Linked DNA regions of Homo sapiens. The protein of the gene in region 4 interacts with the protein of the main gene of each other region in a pairwise test. Each region holds a gene or a part of one and is shown on either strand. Other genes may lie near its edges.

Region 1 (7,477 bases), on a different chromosome or scaffold from region 4:
ACAAACAACAGGCACTAGGGATCACTAGGCCAAGGGGAGCATGGGCTGAAAGACCACCTGTTGTGTACTATGCTTATGGCCTGTGTGATGGGATAATTGGGACCCCAAGCATCGGCATCAATTTACCCATGTAACAAATCTACACATGTACCCTCTACTATATAAGTTGAATTTTTTTTTAAAAAAAGGTTACCATCCAGCAGAAACTGCAAACAGAATTTTATTAATGATTTAATTTTTGCTATGCCAGCCATTTACAGTTTTCTCTTCTACAATTTCAGAAATGCCAATTCCACAATGGATATCAGATTGTACCCTTACAGAGAATTCTATTAAACTTCCCCCTAAATAATACCCCCACTTTCTAAGTGTTTAAATAACATTCACATGTGATTCCCAAAGAAGTTGTTTATCCTTTAAAACTAGTCTGGGCTGTGGTCAGGTATGAAAGTGAAAGAGGCCAGGTGCAGTGGCGCACGCCTGTAATCCCAGCACTTTGGGAGGCCGAGGTGGGTGGATCATCTGAGGTCAGGAGTTTGAGACCAGCATGGCCAACATGGTGAAACCCGGTCTCTACTAAAAATACAAAAAAAAATTAGCCAGGCATGGTGGTGAGTGCCTGTAGTTCCAGCTACTCAGGAAGCTGAGGCAGGAAAATCGCTTGAACTTGGGAGGTGGAGTTTGCAGTGAGCCAAGATTGCGCCACTGCACTCCAGCCTGGGTGACAGAGTGAGACTCGGTTTCAAAAAAAAAAAAAAGAAAGTGAAAGAAATGACAGAATCTCAAGTCCCTTCATCTTACTTATCTTTAAAACATTCCTGCAGCTAAATGAAGACATTAATGACCTTAATATCAATCTTTTAGGAGTTCTTAAAATACCTATGAAGCACCAATGGCAAACATTTTTAAAGTCTGTTTAGAATACTATATCCTTTGGACCAGTCACCAAAATTTATTTATAAACACATTTGTACAGTACTGCTGATTACACTTCCATGGTTATTTGACCTGAACAACCAAGTGATTAACCATAATGCTATGGTCTGCATGTTTGTGTTCTTCAAAATTCTTGTGGAAATCCTAGTTTCCAAGGTCATATCAGGAGGTGGGGCCTTTGGGAGATGACTGTATTATGAAAGCAGAACCTTAATGAATGGGATAAATTCCCTTATAAGAGGCCAGAGAGAGACCCCTTCACCCTTGCACCATGTAAGGAGACAGCTAGAGGGTGCCATCTATTAACCAGAAAGCAGGCTATCACCAAACACTGAATCATCAGACATCTTGATCTAGGACTTCCCAGCCTCCAAAACTGCAAGAAATGAATTTCTGTTGTTTATAAGCCACTCAGTCTGAGGTATTTTGCTATACCAGACCCAAATGGACCAAAGACACATAGAGTATATTTTTAATGCAGCTCAAGGGAGTGTGGAGAAAGAAGGAAAAGAGCATTTGTTGAGGGCTTACCATGGGCTAGGAACAGTTCTCAATACTTTACAGACACCTAATTTATTACTATCAACAAAATTATGAGGTGGATATTATTCCTACTTTACAGATAAGAAAGGCTCAGAAAAATTAATTTGCCAAAAACAAGGGTTGGGGCTGAGATTCAAACTCAAAACAGTCTGCCTTCAAAGCCATCAGATTACTTCTCCCACAGACAACCTTCCAAATCACATTAAAACTTGACTCTTTGATTGATTAAAAATATTAATTCTTTAGTGGATATCATTCTTCAAGTGGCATAAATCATCTGCAACCAACAAACTTTGAGGAAAAGTCATAGTTAACAGAAATAACAGAAGGGAAAGAGCACCAGTATAGGCCAGAGTGGGACAGTGGTCAGACTACCAACCTTAGGTCAGAAAACTTAACCCCAGATTTACCACTCACCAGCTGGTGATCTAAGGCAAGTAATAACCTTTTGAGCCCCCGTTTCTCCATTCATAAAATAAGTATTACTCCTAGCCCATCCATCCTTCTACCAGATTATTTATGAAGATGAAAAGTTAATGATGAAATTAATCCATAAACTAAGACAAACTATAATTCATATAAGGAATTAGTATCTGTTCGGTAAAATGACTATTAATGAATAGCTATTTTCATGGAAAATAACTTGTCACAACTAGAATAAGAGATGCAGTCCACCAGCAACAGGAAGCTGCTCACAAACAGGCGGCCTCATCTCAGCTGGGGCCCCCTTAACAGCAGCAGGTGTTGCTTACAGGACCAGTTTTGTGCCTGCTTTCTAACAATCCCGTTCCTCCCTGGTGCCGTTCCCACGAACGCGCCTGGAAAACGGTGTAGAGGAAAGGCGCCAAGGAAGTGCTGTTTTGGAAAAGAGCAGCAACAGAGGCAGGAGGCTGGGTCCCACTACTCCCAGGTGCGAGAGGCTCTTCGCCCCTCCAGGCCTCAGCGCACGCATCTGGAAGACGGAGAGGCCATTCCTGCCCCGTTTCCTGGGCAGAGCTAAGATCAGAGTACAGGGAAAGCATGGTAAACCCCGCTGGGAATGACAGATGACGAAGACGATCACCTGTCAAACGAAGGGAGGCTCCTCCAGGGGCCCCTCGCATTTAGACATTCCAGAAGCCTCGTCACCCGCGGCCGGGGCTGCCCCCAAGTGAGGTGACGCGGCAGCCCCCCACTCACCCCTCAGACCGCGTAGTGTGCGGGGTCTCACGTCCCTCACACCCCAGATGAGCCCGCAGGGCAGGGCCCGGACGCGGCTCACCCCAGCCCCCGTCCCGAGGCCTCCGAGGCCGACCTCCGAGCCCTCCCCAGGCGACCGCGGCTCCCCTCCCCCAGCAACGATCCCTGCCCCGCTCAACTCGCACTCCCAGGTGAGGGGAGGGGGTGAAAGGGCGTACCCCGCCGCCATTTTGTCCCCTGGTCCCCGCAAGGCATTCAGACGGCCCGCGCCCCAACCCGGACCCGCCCGGGTCTGCGCTACGCACGCCCCTCGCGGACACTCACCCCCGACCGCCCTGCTTAGTTCGGGGCGGCTCAAAGCGTCCCGCCGGGAAAGGGGCGTGACGGGGCGGGGCAGGGAGGCCTCGGAGAGGCGGGGTGGCTTCCCGGCGCACCACGTGATCTCAGCCGCTGCCGCGCCGCTCCCGGCTGCAAGATCTGTGTTGTCCGCGCGCAGGCGCACGCCCGTTCGCGCCGTTGGGGCGCCCAGGCGGGAGGTGTGAGGGTTGATTTGGTTCGATGTCCCGGCGCGGCGTTTCCGAAGCTGTTTCTTTTCCTAGGTTAAGCTTACACCGCCGCTTTTGGCCACACAGGTCTTTCTCGTACTCAATCTCTTCCCTCCTCCTGCCTTATCACCACAGTCAATCCACAGATTAAGGACTTAGAGACGCGCCTCACAGAAATCTGTGCTGGCGAAAGCACTTGACAGGAGCACGCTGGGCTGCGCTGAACACAACTAGGCCTCCGAGAAGCTTTATCAGGGCCCTTCTGTGTGCCAGGCTTGGAAGGTCGAAGTACAGAGACCTAACAAATACGTTTCATCTACTTCAAAGACAAACATATGATGAATTAAATACTTTAACGTTTAAATCAGTCTGAACAAAATAGAAAAAAGATTCAATGCAGACTGTAATTATCAAACGAATATTCACCGTCCCTTTTCATCCAGCTGGGAAACAGCTCTTTACCCTTCCCTCTCCCTCCCCACCCGCAGTAGGCGGGAAGTCCTGGACTCACAAGCGTTGTGGGGGCAGGAACCATATGGCTATGTTCTGGCTCCCCTTCTCTCTTGCCTTCTTAGAAAACTCGCTTTTTCATTTATTCAGCAAATGTTTATTGACCACATACTATATATCAGATGGTATTCTAGATGCTTGGAGTTAATACGTGAGCAAAATAAACAGAAATCTCTAAAAAACCTCCGGCTTCTTGGAGCAGGGTGAAACCAGGCAAGTGTTACATCAAGTTTAGCCAAAAGCTGTGTCCTTACATATTTTAAGTTCAGCCTGAAGGTTTCTCCGTAAATAGTAAACTATAACCTAAATGGAGGTGTAAATACACTGCAACCTACTCTTGCGCCAATCACCAAGTTTTGGCCAAAGACGGCCAACTGTTCAAACCGTGTTCAAATAAGGTAAACGTCTAGCTATAACCATTCTGGCTGTTTCCCTACCTCACTTTTCTTTCTCTGTCTATAAACCTTTTTCCACCATGTGGCTCTGCGGGAGTCTGTATGAACCTACTCTGGCTCAGGAGGCTGCCTGATTCGGGAATAATTCTTTGCTCAAACTCTGTTTAATTTGGCTAATATTTTGCTTTTAACACAAGAAATAGTAAACACAATAAATAAGTAAATTATATAACATGATAAGCACTACAGTTAACAAAATGAGTAGGATAAGGGGGATAGAGTAGGGAGCATACTACAATTCTATAAAAGGCGGTCAGGGCCTCATTTCTTAATTATCCCCACTTCCTTTCATACTCATAAGCATGTAAACAACCTGAAGTCTCTCCCATCTTGAAATCTCCCGCCGAACCTACCAGACTCCACTTCAACCTCTGCTTTCTTTCCTATAATACATTTCTCCAATTATCTAAACAAGAGTGCCTCCAATTCCTCAACCACTACTCAAGTCTGGACTTACTGCACTCTGGTTTCTGCCCCACCACCCCACTGAAACCATTCTTTCCAACATCACTAGGGGCCAGCCGCCGTGGCTCGCGCCTGTAATCCCAGCACTTTGGGAGGCTGAGGCAGGTGGATCACCTGAGGTCAGGAGTTCAAGACCACCCTGGCCAAAATGGCGAAACCCTGTCTTTACCAAAAATACAAAAAAAAAAAAAAAAAAAATAGCCGGGTGCGGTGGCGCACACCTATAGTCCCAGCTACTCGGGAGGCTGAGGCACGAGAATCCCTTGAACCTGGATAGCAGAGGTTTGCAGTGAGCTGAGATCATGCCACTGCACTCCAGCCTGGGTGACAGTGCGAGACTCCATCTCAATTAAAAAAAAAAAAAAAAAAAAAGTTGGGCTGGGCTGGTGGCTCCCGCCTGTAATCCCAGCACTTTGGGAGGCCGAGGCAGGCAGATCACGAGGTCAGGAGATCGAGATCGAGACCATCCTGACCAACATGGTGAAACCCCATCTCTACTAAAAATAACAAAAATTAGCTGGGCGTGGTGGCATGTGCCTGTAATCCCAGCTACTCAGGAGTCTGAGGCAGGAGAATCGCTGAACCAGGGAGACGGAGGTTGCAGTGAGCACAGATCATGCCACTGCACTCAAGCCTGGCGACAGAGCGAGACTCTGTCTCAAAAAAAAAAAAAAAGTCACTAGGGATTTCCCTACTATATATCTTATGGACATTATCATCATTACCTAACTTAATTTCTCTTCATGACCCTCCTTCCTTCTGGAAATACTTTTCCTTGCCTTTCATTTTTACTCTCTTGGTAGCACTTCTCCATCTCTAACCACTCCCTCTCCATCTCTTTTAAAGTCTCTCTTATTTCTCCCAGCCTTTAAATATTGTTATCCCACAGGAATAGGTATAAGCCTTCACTCTTTTCCCACTGGACACACTCTCTACATGACCACTGCCTTTTACATAACTTTGGTTAGCATCTTTATGCTCTGGATTTCCGAATATATATCCCCAGCCCTGATTCCTACTCCTGGGATCCAGGCCACATTGTTAACTACCTACTGGTCATCTCCACTTGAATTAATAAAAATAAATATGACAAAAATAAAAATGATTCATCTTTCTTATATACATATAAAACAGCTTTATTGAGATGTAACCTACATACAAATCAGTGGTTTTTAGGATATTCACACAATTGTACAATCATCACTGCATTTTCTTTACCCCGGAAAGGAACCCAGTACTCACTTCTCCATTTTCCCTCAATTCTCTCAGCCATAGGCAACCACTAATCTACTTTCTCTATGCATAGATTTGCCTACTCCGGACACCTTGTATAAAGGGAGTCATGAGATGTGGTATTTTGTAACTGGCTTCTTTCACTTTGCATATATTCGAGGTATGTTTCTGGGCGCGGTGGCTCACGCCTGTAATCCCAGCACTTTGGGAGGCCAAGGCAGGCGGATCACAAGGTCAGCAGATCGAGACCATCCTAGCTAACAAGGTGAAACCCCGTCTAGACTAAAAAATAGAACAAATTAGCTGGGCGTGGTCGTGGGCGCCTGTAGTCCCAGCTACTGGGGAGGCTGAGGCAGGAGAATGGTGTGAACCCAGAAGGTGGAGCTTGCAGTGAGCCAAGATCGCTCCACTGCACTCCAGCCTGGGTGACAGAGTGAAACTCCATCTCAAAAAAAAAAAAAAAGGTATGTCCACGTTGTAGCATGCATCAACGCTTCATTCCTTTTTAAGGCTGAATAATAGTCCATTGTATAGAATATATAATCACCTTTTATTTATCCATCAGTGGAAGGACATACAGACTATTTCCACTTTTTGACTATTATGAACAATGCTGCTATGCGCATTCATTTACAAGTTTTTGTGGGGATATATATTTTCATTTATTTTGGGTATATTCCTAGGAGTAGAATTGCTGGGCTACATAGTAACTGTATTTTTAAATTTTTCTGGATCTGCTAGATGATTTACCAAACCAGCTACACCATTTTATACTCCCACCAGCAGCATATAAGGGTTCCAGTTTCTCCACATCTTTTCCAGCACTTACCATTGTCTGTCTTTTTTATTACAACCATCTGAGTGGATGTGAAGTGGTATCTCATTGTAGTTTTGATCTGGACTTCCCTGATAGCATAGTTTCATGTGCTTATTGGCCATTTATGTATGGTATTAGATAAATGTCTATTGAAATCCTTTGCCAATTTTTTAATCAGGTTACCACTCATTTTCTTTTGCCACAAAATCTATTCCTATTAATGATATGCCAAACAGTCTGGTTCCCCTCCGTGATGTGCTGCTGCCTTGGCCCCACTGATGGCAGATAGGTAACTTGCTTCAGCCAATAAAATGTAAGCAGGAATGTCAGTTCCAAGCAGAATTTATAAGAGCTAGCTTGTGCGTTCATCATGTCTCTTTTCTGTCTGCCACAAGCAATTTGTTTTAGAGAGAAGCTATTCCATCAGCATAAGTTCCATACTAGAGATGACATGGAGCAGAACTGCAGCTGATCCCCAGTGGATATGTAGCATTTTATATGGTTTGACTGTGTCCCCACCCAAATATCATCTTAAATTATAATCCCCATAATCCCCACATGTCTAGGGAGAGACCTGGTGGGAGGTAAATGGATCATGGGAGCGGTTTCCCCCATGCTGTTCTCATGATAGTGAGCTCTCACAAGAGCTGATGGTTTTATAAGGGCCTCTTCCACCTTTGCTCCTCATTCTTCTCTCTCTCACCTGCCCTAATATAAGATGTGACTCTTCCCCTTTCACCATAATTATAAGTTTCCTGAGGCCTCCCCAGCCATGCAGAACCGTGAGTCAATTA
Region 2 (7,027 bases), on a different chromosome or scaffold from region 4:
CCCATTACTGGGTATATACCCAAAGGACTATAAATCATGCTGCTATAAAGACACATGCACACGCATGTTTATTGCGGCACTATTCACAATAGCAAAGACTTGGAACCAACCCAAATGTCCAACAATGATTGACTGGATTAAGAAAATGTGGCACATATACACCATGAAATACTATGCAGCCATAAAAAATGATGAGTTCATGTCCTTTGTAGGGACATGGATGAAATTGGAAATCATCATTCTCAGTAAACTATCGCAAGGACAAAAAACCAAACACCGCATGTTCTCACTCATAGATGGGAATTGAACAATGAGAACACATGGACACAGGAAGGGGAACATCACACTCTGGGGACTGTTGTGGGGTCGGGGGATGGGGGAGGGATAGCATTAGGAGATATACCTAATGCTAAAGATGAGTTAATGGGTGCAGCACACCAGCATGGCACATGTATACATATGTAACAAACCTGCACATTGTGCACATGTACCCTAAAACTTAAAGTATAATAATAATAATAAAAATAAATAAATAAATAAAACAAAAAACAATATCAATTCTTCAAATCCATGACACAGGATTTTTCATTTATTTTGTCTTCAGGTTTTTTTTTTTTAATCTGTTTTATATTTTTTAGTGTATAGACCTTTCTCTATCTTGGTCATTTATTCCTAAGTATTTTATTCTTTTTGGTGTTATTGTAAATGGGATCATTCTCTTGGTTTCCTTTTGGAATATCTATTGTTGGTGTAAAGAAATGCTCCTGATTTTTGTATGTTGATTTTGTATCCTGCAATTTTACTGAATTCATTTTTTAGTTCTAACAGTTTCTTAATGGAGTTTTTAGGGTTTTCTACATACAAGATCATGTCATCTGCAAACAGAGACATTTACTTCATCCTTTCCAATTTGCGCTCCTTTTATTTCCTTTTCTTGGCTAATTGATTGGCTAGGACTTCCAAGACTAGTTGAGTATTACTTGTCTGAAATATTTGGGATCAGAAATGTTTCAGATTTTTTTGTAGTTTGGAATATTTTCAGAATACCTACCAGTTGAGTATCCTAAATTTGAAAATTCAAAATCTGAAATGCTTCAGTGAGCATTTCCATTGAGCATCATGTTGTTGCTCAAAAAGTTTCAAATTTTGGAGCATTTCGAGTTTTGGATTTTCAGATTTAGAATGCCCAGCCTGTAACTATGTTTGAATAGAAGTGGTGAGAGTGGGCATCCTTGCGTCGTACTGGATCTTTGAAAAAAAACTTTCAGTTTTCCCCCATTATGATGTTAGCTGTGGGAATTTTGCAAATGACCTTTATTGTGTTGGAGTATGTTCCTTCTATACTTATTTTTTTTAGAGTAAACTGAATGGATGTTGAACTTTGTCAGATGCTTTTTCTGCATCTATTTTTGTCTTTAATTCTGCTACTGTGGTGTATAACATTGATTGATTTGCGTATGTTAAACCAACCTTGCATCCCAGAAATAAATCCCAGTTAATCATGGTGTATAATTTTGTTAAAAAATATTTCAACTTTCACTTTAAATATAAGCGGTACATGTGCAGATTTGTTTACATGGGAATATTGTGTGATGCTAAGGTTTGAAGTATGGATCCTGTCACCTCACCCATGAAGTGAACAGAGTACTCGACAGGTAATTTTTTTGATGTGCTGTTGAATTTGCCTTGCTAGTATTTATTGAGGATTTTTGCATGTATGTTCTTTAGTGATATTGGCCTGTAGTTTTCTAGCAGTGTCTTTGTTTGATTTTGATATCAGAGTGATGCTAGTCTCATAAAATGAATTTGGAAGTGGAATTCCCTCTTGTTTTATGAAAGAATTTCAGAAAGATTGGTATTAATTTGTCTTTGAATGTTTGATAGAATTCACTGTGAAGTCATCTGGTCCTGGGCTTTTCTTTGTTGAGAGGTTTTTGATTACTTCGTTAATCTCCTTATTATTGGTCTGTTTAGGCTTTCTGCCTCTTCTTGATTCAATCTTGGTAAGTTGCTTGTTTCTAGGTATTTATCCATTTCTTCTGTGTTATCCAATTTGTTGTCATATAATGTTCATAATAGTCCTTTATGATCTTTTTTATTTCTGAGAAATCCATTGTATGTCTCCTCTTTCATTTATTTAAATCTTCTTTTTTCTTTTTTTAGTCTATGTAAGGGGCTGTCGACTTTATCTTTTCAAAAAAATAAGCTCTTAGTTTTTCTTTTTTTTTCTTTTTGAGACGGAGTCTCACTCTGTTGCCAGGCTGGAGTGCAGTGGCACGATCTCGGCTCACTGCAACCTCCACTCTCGGGTTCAAGCAATTCTCCTGTCTCAGCCTCCCGAGTAGCTGGGACTACAGGCCTGCCCCACCATGCCCAGCTAATTTTTATATTTTTAGTAGAGACGGGGTTTCATCATGTTGGCCAGGATGGTCTCGATCTCTTGGCCTTGTGCTCCGCCTGCCTCGGCCTCCCAAAGTGCTGGGATTACAGGTATGAGCCACCTCGCCCGGTCCCAGTTTTGCTTTTTTTTTTTTTTAATTCTCTATTTTATTTATTTCTACTCTAGTCTTATTATTGCCTTTATATGCTTATTTTGGGCTTAGTTTGTTATTCTTTTTCTAATTTCTTTAAGTGTGAAGTTAGGATGCTTATTTGAGATCTTTTTATTTCCACTTGGGCATTCATTGCTATAAACTCCCCTTAGTACTGCTTTTGCTTTCCCATAAGTTTTGGTATGTTATGTTTTGTTTCTGTCTCAATAATTTTAAGATTTTCTTTTTTAATTCCCTCTTTGATCAATGATTGTTCAAGAGGGTGTTGTTGTATTTGTGAATTTTTTCATTTTCTTTTCTGGTTTTCTTTTTTTTTTTTTTAATTGAGACAGAGTCTCGCTCTGTCGCCCAGGCTGGAGTGCAGTGGTGCAATCTCGGCTCACTGCAATCTCCGCCTCCCAGGTTCAAGTGATTCTTCTGCCTCAGCCTCCCAAGTAGCTGGGACTACAGGTGCATGCCACCACACTCACCTAATTTTTGTATTTTTAGTAGAGACGGGGTTTCACCATGTTAGCCAGGACAGTTTCGATCTCTTGGCCTTGTGATCCGCCCACCTCGGCCTCCCAAAGTGCTGGGATTACAGACGTAAGCCACCATGCCTGGCGAATTTTTCCATTTTCTAGCTGTTATTGATTTCTAGTTTTATACCATTATGGTCAGAAAAGATACTTGGTGTGATTTTGATCTTCTTAAATTTGTTAAGTCTGTTTTTGTGACCTAACGTGAGTTATCCTTCAGAAAGTTCCATCTGTGCTTGAGAAGAATGTGTAGTCTTCTGCTGTTGGTTGGCAAATTCCATATATGTCTTTTGGGTCCATTTGATCCATAGTGTTGTTCAAGTTCACTGTTTATTGATTTTTCTGTCTGGATGATTTATCTATTATTAAAAGTGGAGTATTGAGCTTTCTTTTTTTTATTATGTTGCTGTCAATTTTTCCTTTTAGATTTGTCAATATTTGCTTTATATATTTAGGTGCTCTGATATTGGATGTATATATGTTCACAATTTTTATGTCTTCCTATTGAATTTACCCATTTATCATTATATAATGACTTTCTTTGTCTTTAGAAACAACTTTTAACTTAAAGTCTATTTTGTCTGACATAAACTTAGCCACCCCTGTTTTCTTTTGGTTGCTGTTTGCATGGAATATCTTTTTCCATCCCTTTATTCTCAGCTTTTATGTGTCTTTGAATCTAAACTGAGTTCATTGTAGACAGCATACAGTTGGATCTTTAATCCACTCAGCCTCTCCTCATATAGGCATACCTTATTATGTTGCACTTTGCTTTATTGCACTTCACAGATACTGCATTCTTTACAAGTCAAAGTTTCGTAGTAACCCTGCATTGAGCAAGTCGATTGGTGCCATTTTCCAACAGTATGTGCTCACTTCATGTTTCTATGTCACATTTTGGTACTTCTTGCAATATTTCAAACTTTTTCATTATTATTATATCTGTTATGATGATCTGTGATCAGTGATCTTTGGCATTACTACAAATGTGCTGAACAGAGAGTTGTAAAGCTGAAATAAATTTTTCTAGACTATGAATAATAAAAGTAATTTCTATAACCATGAGAGTGAGGAAAGACAAAATTGTGTTTCTGTTCTCTTTATTGAAAATAAAATTACAAAATTGTTGCGTGTGATGGTACGTACCTGTAGTGCCAGCTACTCTGGAGGTTGAGGCAGGAGAATCACTTGTGCCCATGGGTTTGAGACTGGCCTGAGTCCAAAAAAATTACAAAATTATTGTCGTATGAAGAAGTGATCAGTGTAGGAAAAAATTTCTATAAAGGAGTATCAGGCAGTTAATTTATAATAATTCTAACAATTTTTTTCTGGGTATCGTGATGTTTGTGGTGTTTATAACTTAAATTGTTGTAATTGTGCTTTCTTTTCTCGTTATTTTGTACTAACTTTGTACCCAATTAACAGTGTTCCCCAAATTATACAAGCTTCAGACCTCATAAAACTTGGATTTGTTCCTGGTCAGCAGTGTACCTAGACCTCTTTTTGGATTATTTACCTAAGTAGGGGATGGGTTGTATTGGTTGCCCTCTTGTGATACTTGTGGTATTTCCAGGAAAATTACTGAGAATTAAGAATTTGTGGGCTGGGAATGGTGGCTTATGCCTCTAGCCCCAGCACTTTGGGAGGCCAAGGAGGTGGATCACTTGAGCCCAGGAGTTTGTGGCCAGCTTGGGCAACGTGGTGAAACCCTGTCTCTACAAAAAATAACAAAAATTAGCTGGGCATAGTGGCACTCACCTGTAGTTCCAGCTACTCAGGAGGCTGAGGTGGGAGGATCGCTTGAGCCTGGGAGATTGATGCTAGAGTGAGCTGTGTTCTTGCCATTACATTCCAGCCTGGGTAACAGAACGAGACCCTGTCTCCAAGAGAAAAAAAAAAAATTCGTGACTTAGACTAGTTTTGTTTCCTGTGGAACTCCTAACTAGGCTGCTCAGAAATTATGCTTTTGATTTTGGCCTCATTAGCATCTAGCATAATGTTCTGGTCAGCTGATATAACACACTTAATGTTGCTGACAAATGCTGTACCAAATACATTATAGGGCTTTTAAGCTGTGCAGTAAAACCACAAAATTTCTAATCAAATATTAATAGCTATCTATCCTGCTTATATGTATTCTCCTTGTGATTTAAAATCATTGCTAAGCCACAGTTTAACTTCTTAAAATTTTACTTTGTAGAAAATTTTAAAATTGAATATATAAAGAAGCAAGTAAATGCCCTCAAAGTCTTACCACTTGGATACAACTACTATCATATGAAGAATGCTATCATTTAAAAATATACTTTGTAGTACTAGACTCTGAGTTGGGAGATCTTGTATTTCCTGGGTTCTAGACTTGTGAGTAATTTCCTGTATGACTTTGGACAAGTTAATTCCTCATTAGGGATCAGTCTTCTCATCTGGAAAGAGAGGTAGTACAACATTGTAGGGTTGTTGTGATGTATTTGGAATTTCTCAGTAGTTAGTTATAAAGTGCTTTCTAAGTCATAAATTGCCATATAAATGAATTTTTCATTATTAATTTTTTTTGTAATTAAGAAACCATATAGAAACAAATGCTTTTTTTTTGCACTATTACAGCTACAGAGATGGTAACAAAAATACCAGCTTGAAAACTTGGAATAAAAATGATTTTAAGCCTCAATGTAAACGAACAAACTTAGTGGCAAATGATGGAAAAAATTCTTGTCCAGTGAGTTCGGGAGCTCAACAACAAAAACAATTAAGAATACCTGAACCTCCTAACTTATCTCGCAACAAAGAAACCGAGCTACTCAGACAAACACATTCATCAAAAATATCTGGCTGCACAATGAGAGGGCTAGACAAAAACAGTGCACTACAGACACTTAAGCCCAATTTTCAACAAAATCAATATAAGAAACAAATGTTGGATGATATTCCAGAAGACAACACCCTGAAGGTAAATGTTTAAATACAAATTAATGACTTATTTACATTTTTAAAAATATGAGGTAAATATTTAGAAAACTACAGAGATAAGAGCGCCTGAAATAAATTCCATGACATACATTACTTGATTAGCATAAATATTCAGTTCCATTGAAGTGGATGAATGTTAGTTTCCAAAATATTTTCTTAGAGGGTATGAATGGCTGCTCCTTTTCCTTTCAAACTTTAGAGTTTTCTGCTGGATTCTGACTTTCACTTTACACTCATTTTAAAGATAAAGACAGTTTATCCATTGTTTATGAAGTTACCCAGGCTCTTGATATGTCATTCTAAGTATTTTTCAACAGAGGTCAGCAAACATTTTTCTTAAAGGGCCAGACAGTATTTTTGGCTTTATGGGCCGTACTGTCTCTGTTGCAGCTACTCAGCAATACTACTCAACTCTGCCACTGTAGCTTGGAAGCAGCCATAAGCAATACATAAATGAATGGACACTGCTCTCCTCCAACAAATGTTTACACAAATAGATAGCAGGTTAGATTTGCACTGCAGGCCATAGTTTTCTTTATGATCAACTTATTATGACCTTTGCTTTATGATCTTGTCCTAGTCTACCTTTGTAGCCTCATATTTCATAGTCTACTAATTGTCCAATGCTCTAGCCACTTCAGACTCGTCACAATTCTCTAAACATAGCATACACTCTGTGCTTTGGTTTATATTCTTCCCTATACCTGTATCTCAACTGTACTTCCTCTCTACGCTCAGTGCTCTGATTGCTCTTTGTAAATGTTATTTATATATTATGTGTGCTGGTTATTCCTCATCTCTGCTCCCTGGCCCCTTGGCCCACTTGATTCTTCACCTGCCCTTCTCTGTTGTGGAAGGCTGAACTGTCCTATGTAGTGCATCATCCTGAGATTGTTTACTTGCTGGCTTTTGCTAGAGGTCAGCCAGTAGGAGTCACTGGTACGACATCATAGGGTGGGAGGAAAGGTTGGGTTTTCTCACTTTCTCCTG
Region 3 (7,027 bases), on a different chromosome or scaffold from region 4:
ACAAATAAATCAACATGGCTAAGGCATGTGATGCAACGATGGATAACCAAGAAAGAGGCTATAAAAAGAGAGGAAAGGGCCAGATCAGAAAGGGCTTTGGAATAAGGAAGTGTGTGTGTGCGTGCGTGCGTGTGTGTGCGTGTGTGTGTGTTTTAGACGGAGTCTGACTCTGTCGCCCAGGCTAGAGTGCAGTGATGTGCTCTCGGCTCACTGCAACCTCCGTTTCCTAGGGTCAAGTGATTCTCCTGCCTAAGCCTCCCAAGTAGCTGGGACTATAGGCACGCGCCACCACGTCCAGCTAATTTTTGTATTTTTAGTAGAGACAAGGTTTCACCATGATGGCCAGGCTGGTCTTGAACTCCTGACCTCAAGTGATCTGCCCACCTTGGCCTCCCAAAATGCTGGGATTACAGGTGTGAGCCACCGCGCCCAGCCAGAATTTTGTCTTTTATACTTCATTAATATTACTTTGGCGATAGAATGTAAAACAGATTAGAGGATAACTACCAGCTAAAAAGGCTATTATCATAGTTCGAGTGAGAGATGATGAGGGCCTGAGCTAGGGAAGTGACAAGATAAAATAAAAGTACAGATGAGGAATATTGCTATTAGGAATCAAGTGTCTATGACCAAGTGGATCTAAGAAATAAGGGGGAGGAAGGCCTGTCTCCTGATAAGAAAATTTGGTCATTAAAAGCGTGATTACAATCATGTATACTAAGAACTTTACTAAAAGCTGGAGATATGCTCAACAAGACAAACACCATCCCCTCACTTAAGAACAATCTATTGGGTAAAAAAGCAGATAGGAAATTACAATAAAGTAGAAGTACAACAATAAGAAAAACATAGAAATGAAGAAACCCAGAAGGACTAAAAAAAAACTATAAGAGCAACAACTTTCAAACAAATTTCCTTGACACTAACAAGTCAAGTAAAATGAGAACCTGAAGTTTTTTCAGACTAGGCAATCAGAAAATTACTGCAGATCTTTACCAGACAATCACTAAAGGTTTTTACCAGAAATTTCAACTGAGTAGGGAAGACGCCTAATGTAGTATGATCAACATGAAGTGCTTAAGGGCGGTTAAGTTACTAAAAATTAGCAATATGTAAAATGAAAGGCTACTAAAATAAAATATTAGAGACTGCTTAACATACTGTCTCCTGGGAACCTTTCTATAATAGTGGCAATATTGTCTTTCCTTACAGTTACGTATGTGCTTACTACTGAAGTTTTCAAAATTAACAATGCATTGTTTAGGGATACATGCATGGGTGATGATACATAAAGAAAATCAAAGGAATGAATAATCCAAATAAGAGAATAGTGGTTGCATCTAGGAGTGTACGGTTCAAATGGGCAGGAGCTCACATAGAGATCCTGAAGTTTTGAAAAATGTTCTTTCTTGACCTGGGTTAATAGGTAACTGGATGTTAATCATTATTTTTTTAAACCACAAGTGCATTTTGGCCATTTTTCTGTGTAAAATACATTTCATAAAAATGTTTAATGTACATGAATCTGAGATAAGATACAAATCAATCCAAATCTAGTTGTTTAAAAGAAATGAGACTCAAACAGAACTGCACTGCACCTGGTTTCATTTTTACATGACATTTTAGAATAAAAATTTCAAACTCTAAGTCTATCCCTTAGATAGCAAAGAAAAAACAGGTTGTAGTTTGCAAATACATTACTGAAAAGGATTTTCTATAGTTTTTCAAATCATTTCAGTTGCAAAATCAGTAAGAGAAAAATCTCCAACTTATTTTTTACTCAAAAAAATGAAAATTCTTAGAATGATTTTAAATAACATAAGCTGAAGTTCATGAAGTCATCTCCCAGATGAGAGCTTACGTGTGCCAAACAGATTTTAAGGCAAATGCTGTAGTTCTGATACTTGGCAATTCACTTTAAAAACACATGTGCACATACACACACACACATCCCCCCAAATACCTTATCATATAGTTCCCAAAACAATTTCCATTTCAATTATGAAAATTCTGTATTTAGGAATAAGTATTGCTTACCTGTTCCCTACTGAATCTTGAGAGATCTGAAAGTTTGGAATGATAGAAGAAACACCATATTCATCCTGATACTTCTTACAAGATTTGTAATGATGTCTCATGCGATAGAATTTAATCTGTAAATTATTAAAATGTGACTTTTAATTTAAAATAGAACTCGTAAGATTTGAAATAGTGTAAAGAGAGGAAAAAATAAAAGTAACTAAATACTCCATTTAAACAGGAGTTGTATTTTTTTAAAGTAAATGATTTCATCCTTAAGTAGGAGTTAAGAATAGATAATACATTTCTGTTCATTAAATGTAGAGATGGAGAAGAGTCCATCTGTCTATAAATTCACTGCAAAAAACAGCAAATAACTTCACACTTGAAAAGACACTACCAGCAGTAGACAAAAAAATTAAAAGCACTAAGAGGATGCCAGATGCTATTGGGCATGTCTTATTATTTAACTTCTGCAGCCTGGCAGAGTTAGAAAGCACTTAAAAAAAAATTAAGTTCCTGGCTGGGTGCAGTGGCTCGCGCTTGTAATCCCAGCCTTTTGGGAGGCTGGGATGGGTGGACTGCTTGAGTTCAGGGGTTCAAGACCAGCCTGAGCAATATGGCAAAATCCTGTTTATACAAAAAATACAAAAATTAGCCAGGTGTAATCTCAGCTACCTGTGGGGCTGAGGCAGGAGGATTGCTTAGAGCCTGGGAAGTCAAAGCTGCAGTGAGCCGAGATTGTGCCACTGTACTCCAGCCTGGGTGACAAAGTGAGACCCTGTCTCAAAAAAAATTAAGTTGCCAGGAATACTTGGAACATTTTTCAGTTTCTCACTGAGAGGAATAGCCAGAATCTCTCGAGTGTGTTTTCCAGCTTCACGTCATTGCCCTGTCAGTTAAACACTTCCTTCAAAAAGATGTAAAAGCAGATCTGACTTGTGTGAATGCATGAAATAGCAACCAGCTTTGCTCACTGAATTCATTAGCTATTAGAAAAAATGTCGGTGATAAATCTATAGACACATGGATATACTCAAAGCCTAACCACCCCTCTCTATTTTATTCCTTCTCCAAATGATAGAATAAAATCCAGATTAGAGAATTAATGCTGGTTATTTGTTAACACCTGATTTTCCTACATGTTCCTTAAAATTAACCAAATATTTTGTGATTTCTTTCTTCTTCTTTTTTTTTAGACAGCGTTTCGCTCTTGTTGCCCAGTTTGGAGTGCAATGGCGCAATCTCAGCTCACCGCAACCTCTGCCGCCCAGGTTCAAACAATTCTGCCTCAGCCTCCCAAGTAGCTGGGATTATAGGCATGCGCCACCACACCTGGCTGATTTTTTATTTTTAGTAGAGACGGGGTTTCACCATGTTGGTCAGGCTGGTCTCGAACTCCTGACCTCAGGTCATCCACCCACCTTGGCCTCCCATAAGTGCTGGGATTACAGGCATGAGCCACCATGCCCGGCCCTTGTGATTTCTTAAATACATACATAAATACATAAGTAAAGTGAGGAGCTAGAGAGTTCCTTAAACTACATAAATCCATGTGCCCAAACTAGTAACATTTCTATGTGTAAAGCTGCAATAATGATGCTACCATGAGAAAAACTTAAGGGGTGAATTTGTACCAGAATGGGGTTTAAATGAGCTAAATGCCAGCTTGCTAATTTAGTTACTTTAGCAAGTAATCAATGAGAAATTACTTTTAGAAAAATGCCACGCTAAGTATTATGAAATTCAGTGATTTTTTTTTCAGTCTCATTTCTCAGTAAGTTTATAATCTAGTAAGATCTATGACCACAGCTTTTTTTGGCCTTTTCTATCCAATTCCCAGTCTAAATACCTTTCATCTTTTCAAAAAAAAAAAAAACACCAACCAAGAAAATTCAAATAAGAATTTCAGAGTAGAAACTTGGCTTCCAAAGAAGAGAGATGTCACATTTACTCTACCTGTTTTGCACAGCATCTGCAGCTACCAGAAAACTTCCTCATTATATTTTCAAGGTCTAAGGCCCGTTCAGGACATGCTCTCTCTCTTCTAGTCACATTTCCACGACATAGGGGACAATGTGCTCCGCTTTCCCTCATTGCAGTCAGGAAACATTTTCTACAGAAACTAAACCAAACATTGTGACACATTAATTACAAAAAAAATTACTCTCTTCATCTCTATAATTAAATACAAACAAGTGATTATAAATATGTATTCATATTAAATAAGTTAGGCTACTCATATGTACATAAATCTCAGAAGTTTAGTAACTGTATATGTATTTATCAGAGAGTAAGACTGATAACTGGACTAGATGGGAATATTTGAACAATTACACTCAAGTCTGCTTTACAACTTCTTAACATAATATATGATGAATAAATATTAATGCTACATATTAATAATATTACTAGAGGAAGCATGGTACAAAGGAAAAACCGGATCCTGGCTCTGCCATTTAGTAGCTGTGTAATCTTAGGCCAACAAATTAACGCACACTGGATCTCCATTTCCTCCCCTTACAAAATAAAAGGATGAGTAACATAAGCTTTTGTCTCAAACTGATGTATATCGACATGTTGTTCCACAAGACATAAACAGGTCTACTACAAAAGAGCACACAAATTGGTTTGGGAAGTTCTAGGATAAAGTTAATAGGTTTTACCCAAAGTTAGGTGTTACCCAAAGTTATCTGCGTGTTAACAGATATTTGGTTATTTGGTCCGGAAGTAGGGAAATTTCCCAAACAGTATGCAATGGAACATAATTTGAGAAATACTTAAGAATACTTCCGGCTTTGCCGGGCACGGTGGCTCACGCCTGTAATCCCAGCACTTTGGGACGCTGAAGCAGGCGGATCACGTGGTCAGGAGATCAAGACCATTCTGGCTACCACGGTGAAATCTCGTCTCTACTAAAAATATAAAAAATTAGCCGGGCGTGGTGACAGGCGCCTGTAGTTTCAGCTACCCGGGAGGCTGAGGCAGGAGAATGGCATGAACCCAGGAGACAGAGGTTGCAGTGAGCCGAGATTGCACCACTGCACTCCAGCCTGGGCGACAGAGCAAGACTCCGTCTCAAAAAAAAAAAAAGATTAAACATTTATAACCAACTTTCTAATTAGAATCAAACTAAAATCTTTTTATCTTCTCTAGCCCCACCAAATACCTTATTTGATCATTTTGCTTTCAAGAGAACCAGTTAAATTACAGACATATATATCTGGGATCTAGAATACATATACATTTAATCCAATCTCCTATAAATATATATGAATATTCCTCCTCTATACTAACAGAAGTTGAGAGGAAATGGTGCAGTAACAGATCACATAACCTGAGTTTCCTAACTATGCAGCACTTTTAAACAAGTCAGTTTTTCCCTCTAATATCAGTTTCCTCACTCACGAAATAATAAAAGTATCTACAACTGATTCGGCTGTTCAGAGGATTAAAATAGATAACAAGTATAAAATGCTTAACACATTATTTGTCATGGTCAGGAAAGTGCTCAATAAATAGTAGTTAATATCATTAAAGCAGCACTAGAAGTCATTACCAATTAACACCATAAACTAAAACATTAGGCAGGGCGTAGTGGCTCATGCCTATAATCCCAGTGCTTTGGGAGGACAAGGCAGGAGGACAGCTTGAGGCAAGGAGTTGAAGACCAGCCTGGGCAACATAGCAAGACCCTGTCTCTACAAAAATTAAAAATAAAAAAAATTAGCTGGGTATAGTAGCATGCACGTCCAGTCCCAGCTACTCAGGAGGCTGAGGCGAAGGATCACTTGAGCCCAGGAGGTTGAAGCTGTAGTGAGCTATGAAGGTGCCACTGCATTCCAGCCTGGGTGACAGAGCAATACTGTCTCTCAAAAAACAATAACAATTAAAAATATTTACCATAGCCAGAAACCAAAATAACGCAAAGTAAACAAGATGCCAGTTTTCACTTGCCAAACTAAAAACTAGTTTTATTTATTTTATTTTTTTGAGACAGAGCCTCGCTCTGTCGCCCAGGCTGGAGTACACTGGTGCGATCTTGGCTCACTGCAACCTCTGCCTCCAGGGCTCAAGTAATTTTCCTGCCTCAGCCTACCCAGTAGGTGGGACTACAGGCATGCACCACTGCGACGGCTAATTTTTGTACTTTTTGTAGAGATGGGATTTTGCCAGTTGCTCAGGCTAGTCTTGAACTCCTGAGTTCAAGTGATCCAGCCATCTCAGCCTCCCAAAGTGTTGGGATTACAGGCGTGAGCCATGGTGCCCAGCAAAACTAGTTTTAAAAATAGTAAAAGTAACCAAATCTGGGCACAGCAGCATGTACCTGTAGTCTTAGCCACTTGGGAGGCTGAGGTGGGAGGGTCTCTTGAGCCAATGAGTTCAAGGCCCGCCTGGGTAACACAGCATGACCCTGTCTCTAAAAAAATAGTAATAATAAAACAATGGCCAGGCACAGTGGCTCACACCTGTAATCCTGCACTTTGAGAGGCTGAGCGGGGCAAATGGCTTAAGCTCACAAGACCAGCCTGGGCAACATGGTGAAACCCCATCTCTACTAGCCTGGCATGGTGGCACATGCCTGTAGTCCCAGCTACTCAGGAGGCTGAGGTGAGAGGATCACTTGAGCCTGTGAGGCAGAGGTTGCAGTGAGCTGAGATCGTGCCACTGCACTTCAGCCTGAGCAACAGAGTGAGACCTTGTTTAAAAAAAAAAAAAAAGAAAGAAAAAGACAAAAATGAAAACGGTGGGAAATACCAAGTGTTAGGGAGGATATGAACCAACCTAAACTCACATTGGAGGCTATGGGAGTATAAACTTTTACAACCATTTGGAAAACTGGGTGGCAATATCCATTAGAGCGCATAAATTCCACTCTGAAGTATATACCCATCAAACCTATATACATAAAACCATGGGCAGTGGCTTATGCCTATAATCCCAGCACTTTGGGAGGCCAAGGCGGGAGGATTACTTGAGGCCAGCCTGGACAACATAGTGAGACTTT
Region 4 (7,027 bases):
TGTGAAGGTTTTGGTAAGAGGCAACTGGGAGATCTGCGGATTTAATGGAGATGCAGCCTAGACTGTAGGCCTCCTGGTTTGCTGGAAAGAATTGGGGAATAAGACAGCTGGAAGAAGCCATTCTAGGATCAGAAGAAGGATCAAACATTGACCGCAGCATGGTGGCTCACGCCTGTAATCCCAGCACTTTGGGAGGCTGAGGCAGGCAGATCATCTGAGGTCGGGAGTTTGAGACCAGCTTGACCAATATGGTGAACCCCATCTCTACTAAAAATACAAAAATTAGCTGGGCATGGGGGCATACACTTGTAATCCCAGCTACTTGGGAGGCTGAAGCAGGAAAATCACGTGAACTGGGAGGTGGAAGTTGCAGTGAGCCAAGATCACGCCACTGCACTCCAGCCTGGGTGACAGTGAAGCTCTGTCCTGTCACAAAACAAAACATTGACCACAGACCTCTGAGGTGGTGGATGTCCCTCCTGTCCTGGTTGTATCATTATACATTGTATATTAATGTATCGAAATACTACAGGTACCCCCAACATGTGTACAACTATTATGAATCAATAAAAAACAATTTGAAAAGTAAGGTATGTGGCAGAGGTGGAAAAAAATGCTTTCCTCCAAACAGCCACAATTTGATTGTATCAGTTTGTAGAGTAAGAGCAAGTTATGCCTCAGTGTGTTGTTGAAAATAATAGAACAATATGCCACAATTAGTGGAGCTTCATAGCTGGGTGTGGTCAAGGAGAGAATAGAAGAGAACCCTACCAAAACCACTGTCATCCCAGGGTGACTGTGAGCATACCCAAAGCTGCACCTCCCTGAAGAGCAATATCATAGGCCTTAACACTTTTCAGGGGAAATGGATTTCACTCAAATAATCCAGCCAGTCGCTAAACAAATAAATAACAATTGGCCCTGGAGAGGGGGTACCAATCCCCAGAGTTGCTACAGTATATTATCTAAAATGTCCAGTTTCCAACAAGAAATTGTGAGACGTACAAAGAAACAGGAAAATATGACACATACACTGGAAAAAAGCTGGCAGCAGCAACTGCCTGTGAGACAAGGGGCCAAATTAATGAAAAAGGCTTCAAACTGGCCTATATATATATTCACAGTACTATATATATTCACAATACTAAAGGAAAATATGATGACAAAGAAGTAAAGGATGGTATGACACTGTTGCATCAATTAAAGAATATCCATAAAGATATAGAAATTATAAAAAAAGAATCAAATGAAAATTCTGGAGTTGAAAGTACAATAACAGCTGGGCGCGGTGGCTCACACCTGTAATCCCAGCACTTTGGGAGGCTGAGGCGGGCGGATCACCTGAGGTCGGGAGTTCGAGACCAGCCTGACCAACATGGTAAAACCCCGTCTCTGCTAAAAATACAAAAATTAGCCAGGCGTGGTGGCCGGCACCTGTAGTCCCAGCTACGCGGGAGGCTGAGGCAGGAGAATTCCTTGAACCTGGGAGGCGGAGGTTGCAGTGAGCCAAGATCGAGCCACTGCACACCAGCCTGGGCAACAGAGCAAGACTCTGTCTCAAAAAAAAAAAAAAAAAAAAAAAAAGTACAATAACAAATTTAAAAATTAACTAGAGGGACTCAGGACTCAATAACAGATTTGAACTGGGTGAAGAAAGAATTCGTTAATTTTTTTTTTCTTTTTGAGACAGAGTCTCGCTCTGTTGCCTAGGCTGGAGTGCAGTGGGGCAATCTCGGCTCACTGCAACCTCTGCCTCCCTGGTTCAAGCGATTCTCCTGCCTCAGCCACCGCACAGTGGCTTTGGGAGTACTCTGGGAGGCTGAGGTGGGTGGATCACCTGAGGTCAGGAGTTCAAGACCAGCCTGGCCAACATGGTGAAACCCCATCTCTACAAAAATACAAAAATTTAGTTGGGCATGATGGCGGGTGCCTGTAACCCCAGCTACTTGGGAGGTTGAGGCGGGAGAATTGCTTGAACCCGGGAGGCGGAGGTTGTAGTGAGCAGAGATCGTGCCACTGCCCTCCAACCTGGGTGACAGAGCGAGACTCCATCCCTGCCCTGAAAAAAAAAAAAAAGATGTGAAACACATACAAAAAAAAGTAAAATGGCAGTTGAATGCCAAGTAATTAGATAACTTCAATAAAATGGACAAACTCCTAGAAAGATATAAACCACCAAAATTGACCCAAGAAGAGACACTATCTGAATAGACCTATAACAAGTAAAGATATTAAATTAGTAATTGAGGGGACTCGTGGGGTAACTTGCCCTTGGGAACCAGTAGTATGGCATCGGGCTGCAAGATTGGCCTGTCCATCCTCAATGCTACCTGGCCAATTTAGGGGCCCAGTGCCTCTGGATGCTAGACTCTGGGGTCGATTATCTCCACCGGAATGTAATGGATGAACATGCATGTGATGGTGTCCAAGCCAGAACAGTGGGTAAAGCCAATGGCTATAAGAGGAGCCAATCAGTACATCTTTCATCTCGAGGAAACTGAGAACCCAGGGGCTTTGATTAAAGACATTCAGGAGAATGGGATGAAGGTTGGCCTTGCCATAAAACCAGGAACCTCAGTTCAGTATTTGGCACCATGGGCTAATCAACTAGGTATGACCTTGGTTATGACAGTGGAACCAGGGTTTGGAGGGCATAAATTCATGGAAGATATGATGTTAAAGGTTCACTGGTTGAGGATCCAGTTCCCATCTTTGGCTATAGAGGTCGCTGGTGGAATAGATCCTGACACTGTCCATAGGTGTGCAGAGGCGAAGCTAACATGATTGTGTCTGGCAGTGCTATGGTGAGGAGTGAAGACCCTAGATCTGTGATCAGCCTGTTAAGAAACATTTGCTCAGAAGCTGCTCAGAAAGATTCTCTTGATTGATGAAACCTTAAGGAGCCCAATGTTTGTTTATGAAATCTCCTTTTTACTGGAAAACAGGAATATTGACTACCAAATCATAGTGTAGTTGAAGCCATTCTGCGTTTTTGAGCAGTTATTCGTTTCAGTGATTATAATTGATTGTGCAGAGTATTCTAAGAAGTTAGAAATTGGTGTGTATAACTACATTTTCAGTGATGCAATTTAATGATTAGTGAGTGAGATACTGTTTTTATTGAGAGCCTTGATTTTTATAAAGAGTAAAAATATGGCTGCATTAAGGGTACAAACAGAAAAGTGTCTTAATGTCTAAGGAGGGCATATTAGCTACACTATAAAAACAATTTTTTTCTGTATTTCTGAAAAGAATTTTGTTGTTTCTCAGTTGTTTTCCAAAAGCAAAGGAAGTCTTAATGTTTTTTTCTATTTCGTGTTATGTGTGATTTGTTTATATGCTTGGTAATATGAGTCTAATGGAATTTAAAAATATAAGTTTGGGTAGGATAGTATACCCTTAAAAAATAAATAAATAATTAGAGAGAGAGAGAGAGAGAGAGACCTGGGCACAGTGGCTGTTGCCTGTAATCTCAGCACTTTGGGAGGTCAAGGCAGGAGGATCCTTTGAGGCCAGGAGCTTGAGACCAACCTGGGCAACATAGAGAGACCCCAACTCTAAAATATACATACTATATCTAAACTCAGCTAGGCGTGGTGGTGTGAGCCTGGAGTCCCAGCTACTCAGGAGGTTAAGGTGTGAGGATCACTTGATCCCAGGAGGTTGAGGAGGCAGTGAGCTATGATTGTGCCACAGTGCTTCAGCCAGGGTGACAGAGTGAGACCCTGTCTCTTAAAAAAAAGAAAAGAGGCTGGGTGCAGTGGCTCATGCCTGTAATCCCAGCACTTTGGGAAGCCAAGGTGGGCAGATCACGAGGTCAGGAGTTCAAGACCAGCCTGTCTAATATGGTGAAACCCCATCTCTACTAAAAATACAAAAATTAGCCGAGCATGGTGGAGTGCGCCTGTAGTCCCAGCTACTCGAGAGGCTGAGGCAGGAGAATCGCTTGAACCCGGGAAGTTGGAGGTTGCAGTGAGCTGAGATTGCGCCACTGCACTCCAGCCTGGGTGACAAAGTGAGACTCCATCTCAAAAAAAAAAAAAAAGAAGAAAGAAAAGCAAAGCAAAGCCCAGGCCTGTACCTACTAGAGGTCCTGATAACTTCACCACTGAATTCTATCAAACATTTCAAGAAAAATTAATACAGTTCTTCACAAAGTCTTCAAAAATGAAAAAGAGGAGAAAATACTTACAAACGAATTTTATGAGACTGGTATTACCCTGTTGCCAAAAACCAGGAAAAGACATTACAAGAAAAGAAAACCATAGACAAATATATCTTACAAATGTGGAAGCAAAAATCCTCAACAAAAATACTAGCAAACTGAATCCAGTAACATATAAAAATAATTATATACCATAAACAAGCAGGATTTATTCCAGGAGTGCAAGGTTGGTTTAACATCCAAAAATGAATTAGTGTAAATAATGTAATGCATTATATCAATAGAATAAAAAACAAAAATCACCTTGTCATCTCAGTAGACACAGAAAAAGCATTTGACAAAATTCAGCATGTTTTTCATGATAAAAACACTAAATAAACTAAGAAGAGAAGAGCAGTTCCTCAACCTGATACACAGCAGTTATGAAAAACCCACAGCTAACTTCATAATAGTGAGACTGAGGCCAGGCACAGTGGCTCACGCCTGTAATCCTAACACTTTAGGAGGCCAAGGTTGGAGGGATCACTTGAGGTCAGGAGTTCAAGAACAGCCTGGCCAACATGGTGAAACCCTGTCTCTACTACAAATACAAAAAAAAATTAGCCAGGTGTGGTGGTGCATACCTATAATTGTAGCTACTTGGGAGGCTGAGGTGGGAGGATTGCTTGAACCTGGGAGGCAGAGGTTGCAGTGAGCTGAGATAGCACTACTGCACACAATAGGCTGGGCGACAGAGCTCAAAACAAACAAACAAACAAACAAAATAGTGAAAGACTGTATGCTTATCCTTAAGATTAGGAAAAAGAGAGATAAGTCTACTTTCACTACTGCTATTCAGCATTGTACTGGAGGTTCTAGCCAGGGCAATTAGGCAAGAAAATGCAATAAAATACATCTATGTTGGAAGGGAACAAGTAAGATCATCTCTGCAGATGACATGATCTTGCATATAGACCCTGAGGAATCCACTACCAAAGTATTGGAACTAATAAATTATTAGTTTAGTAAGGTTATAGGATACAAGATCATTACACAAAACTTAGTTGTAAATGTATCCACTTGGAATGAACAATCTGAAAAGGAAATTAAGAAAATTCCATTTACAATAACCTAAAAAATAAAAATACTTATAACAAAAGAGGTATCTTTTTTTCCATCCTCTGACAGTTTAGTAAAAGAAAGTATAAAACTTATACTCTAAAAGCTGTAAAACATTTTTGGTTTTGTTTTTTAAATTAATTTTTTTTGAAACGGAGTCTCACTCTGTCGTCCAGGCTGGAATGCGGTGGCGCGATCTCGGCTCACTGCAACCTCTGCCTCCCAGGTTAAAGCGATTCTCCTGCCTCAGCCTCCGGAGTAGCTGGAGCTACAGGTGTGCACCACCATGCCTGGCTAATTTTTGTATTTTTAGTATAGAGGGGGTTTCACCATGTTGGCCAGGCTGGTCTCGAACTCCTGACCTCAGGTGATCCACCCGCCTCAGCCTCTGAAAGTCCTGGGATTACAGGCGTGAGCTAGTGCGCCCAGCCTGGCCTTTTAAAATATTTAATTAATTGATTTTTTTTTTTCTCGGACTTGCACTGAAGTGAGAACAAGTGCAGTGGTGCAATCATATCTCAGTGCAGCCTAGACCTTCCAGGCTTAAGTGATCCTCCTATATCAGCCTCCCAAGCAGCTCAGACCACAGGCATGCGCGATCATCCCTAGCTTTTTTTTTTTGTTTGTTTGTTTTTTAATTTCTTGTAGAGACAGAGTCTCCCTGTGTTACCCAGGCTGGTCTTGAACCTGACCTCAAGCAACCTCCCATGTTGGCCCCTCAAAGTGCTGGGATTACAGGTGTGAGCCACCGTGCCTGGCCTGTAAAACATTTTTAAAAGAAAGAAGATATAAATAAATAAATAAATAGAAAATAGCTCTTGTTCATGGATCATAAGACATAACGTTGTCAAATTGGCAGTATTTTGGAAATTGATCTACACGTTTGACATAATCCCTGTCAGAATCCCAGTTTATTTCATTGTAGAAATTGACAAGTCTCCAGGCGTAGTGGCTCATGCCTGTAATCCCAGCACTTTGGGAGGCCGAGGCAGGCGGATCACCTGAGGTCAGGAGTTCAAGACCAGCCTGGCCAACATGGAGAAACCCTGTCTCTACTAAAACTACAAAATTAGCCGGGTGTGGTGGCACATACCTGTAATCCCAGGTACTCGGGAGGCTGAGGCAGGGAATCGCTTGAACCTGGGAGGCGGAGCTTGCGGTGAGCTGAGATCACGCGCCACTGCACTCCAGCTTGGGCAACAAGAGCGAAACTCCATCTCAAAAAAAAAAAAGAAATTGACAAGTCAATTCATAAATTCCTATGGAATCGCAAGGGACCCACAATAGCTAAATCTTGAAAAAGAACAAAGCAGAAAGACTCACGCTTTGTGATTTCAAGACATACTATAAAACAACTAATCAAGACAACGTCACCAGGCACCGTGGCTTATGCCTATAATCCCAACACTTTGGGAGGCCAAGGCAGGCAGATCACTTGAGGACAGGAGTTCGAGACCAGCCTGGGCAACATGGCGAAATCTTGTCTCTACCAAAAATACAAAAATTAACCGGGCGTGGGGGTGCACACTTGTAGTCCAAGCTGCTTGGGAGGGCTGAGGCACAAGAATCCCTTGAACCCAGGAGGTGGAGGTTGCAGTGAGTCGAGATCGTGCTATTGCACTCCAGCCTGGGGGACAGAGCGAGATTCCATTTCAAAAAAATAAAAATAAAAAGACAGTGTGGTACTGGTATAAGGATAAATGTGTAGATCAGTGGCATAGAATTGAGAGTCCAGAAATAAACCCAGTGGAATAGAGTTGAGAG

Evidence for each region.
Region 1: the proteins of NF2 (region 4) and SCAPER interact in binary tests that used the Homo sapiens proteins (3 or more experiments, as listed by UniProt).
Region 2: the proteins of NF2 (region 4) and SPATA22 interact in binary tests that used the Homo sapiens proteins (3 or more experiments, as listed by UniProt).
Region 3: the proteins of NF2 (region 4) and RNF138 interact in binary tests that used the Homo sapiens proteins (3 or more experiments, as listed by UniProt).

The regions. Positions count from the first base shown.
Region 1 is NC_000015.10:76,902,317-76,909,793, forward strand, and holds the start of SCAPER (S phase cyclin A-associated protein in the endoplasmic reticulum), read right to left. Parts: upstream 3,025-7,477; 5' UTR 2,983-3,024; exon of another isoform or gene 2,888-2,982; coding exon of another isoform or gene 2,877-2,887; intron 2,476-2,876; exon of another isoform or gene 2,432-2,475; coding exon of another isoform or gene 2,298-2,431; intron 1-2,297. UniProt on the Homo sapiens protein: CCNA2/CDK2 regulatory protein that transiently maintains CCNA2 in the cytoplasm.
Region 2 is NC_000017.11:3,447,797-3,454,823, reverse strand, and holds part of SPATA22 (spermatogenesis-associated protein 22), read left to right. Parts: intron 1-5,674; coding exon 5,675-6,017; intron 6,018-7,027. UniProt on the Homo sapiens protein: Meiosis-specific protein required for homologous recombination in meiosis I.
Region 3 is NC_000018.10:32,108,871-32,115,897, reverse strand, and holds part of RNF138 (E3 ubiquitin-protein ligase RNF138), read right to left. Parts: intron 4,145-7,027; coding exon 3,979-4,144; intron 2,154-3,978; coding exon 2,038-2,153; intron 1-2,037. UniProt on the Homo sapiens protein: E3 ubiquitin-protein ligase involved in DNA damage response by promoting DNA resection and homologous recombination.
Region 4 is NC_000022.11:29,606,614-29,613,640, forward strand, and holds part of NF2 (merlin), read left to right. Parts: intron 1-7,027. UniProt on the Homo sapiens protein: Probable regulator of the Hippo/SWH (Sav/Wts/Hpo) signaling pathway, a signaling pathway that plays a pivotal role in tumor suppression by restricting proliferation and promoting apoptosis.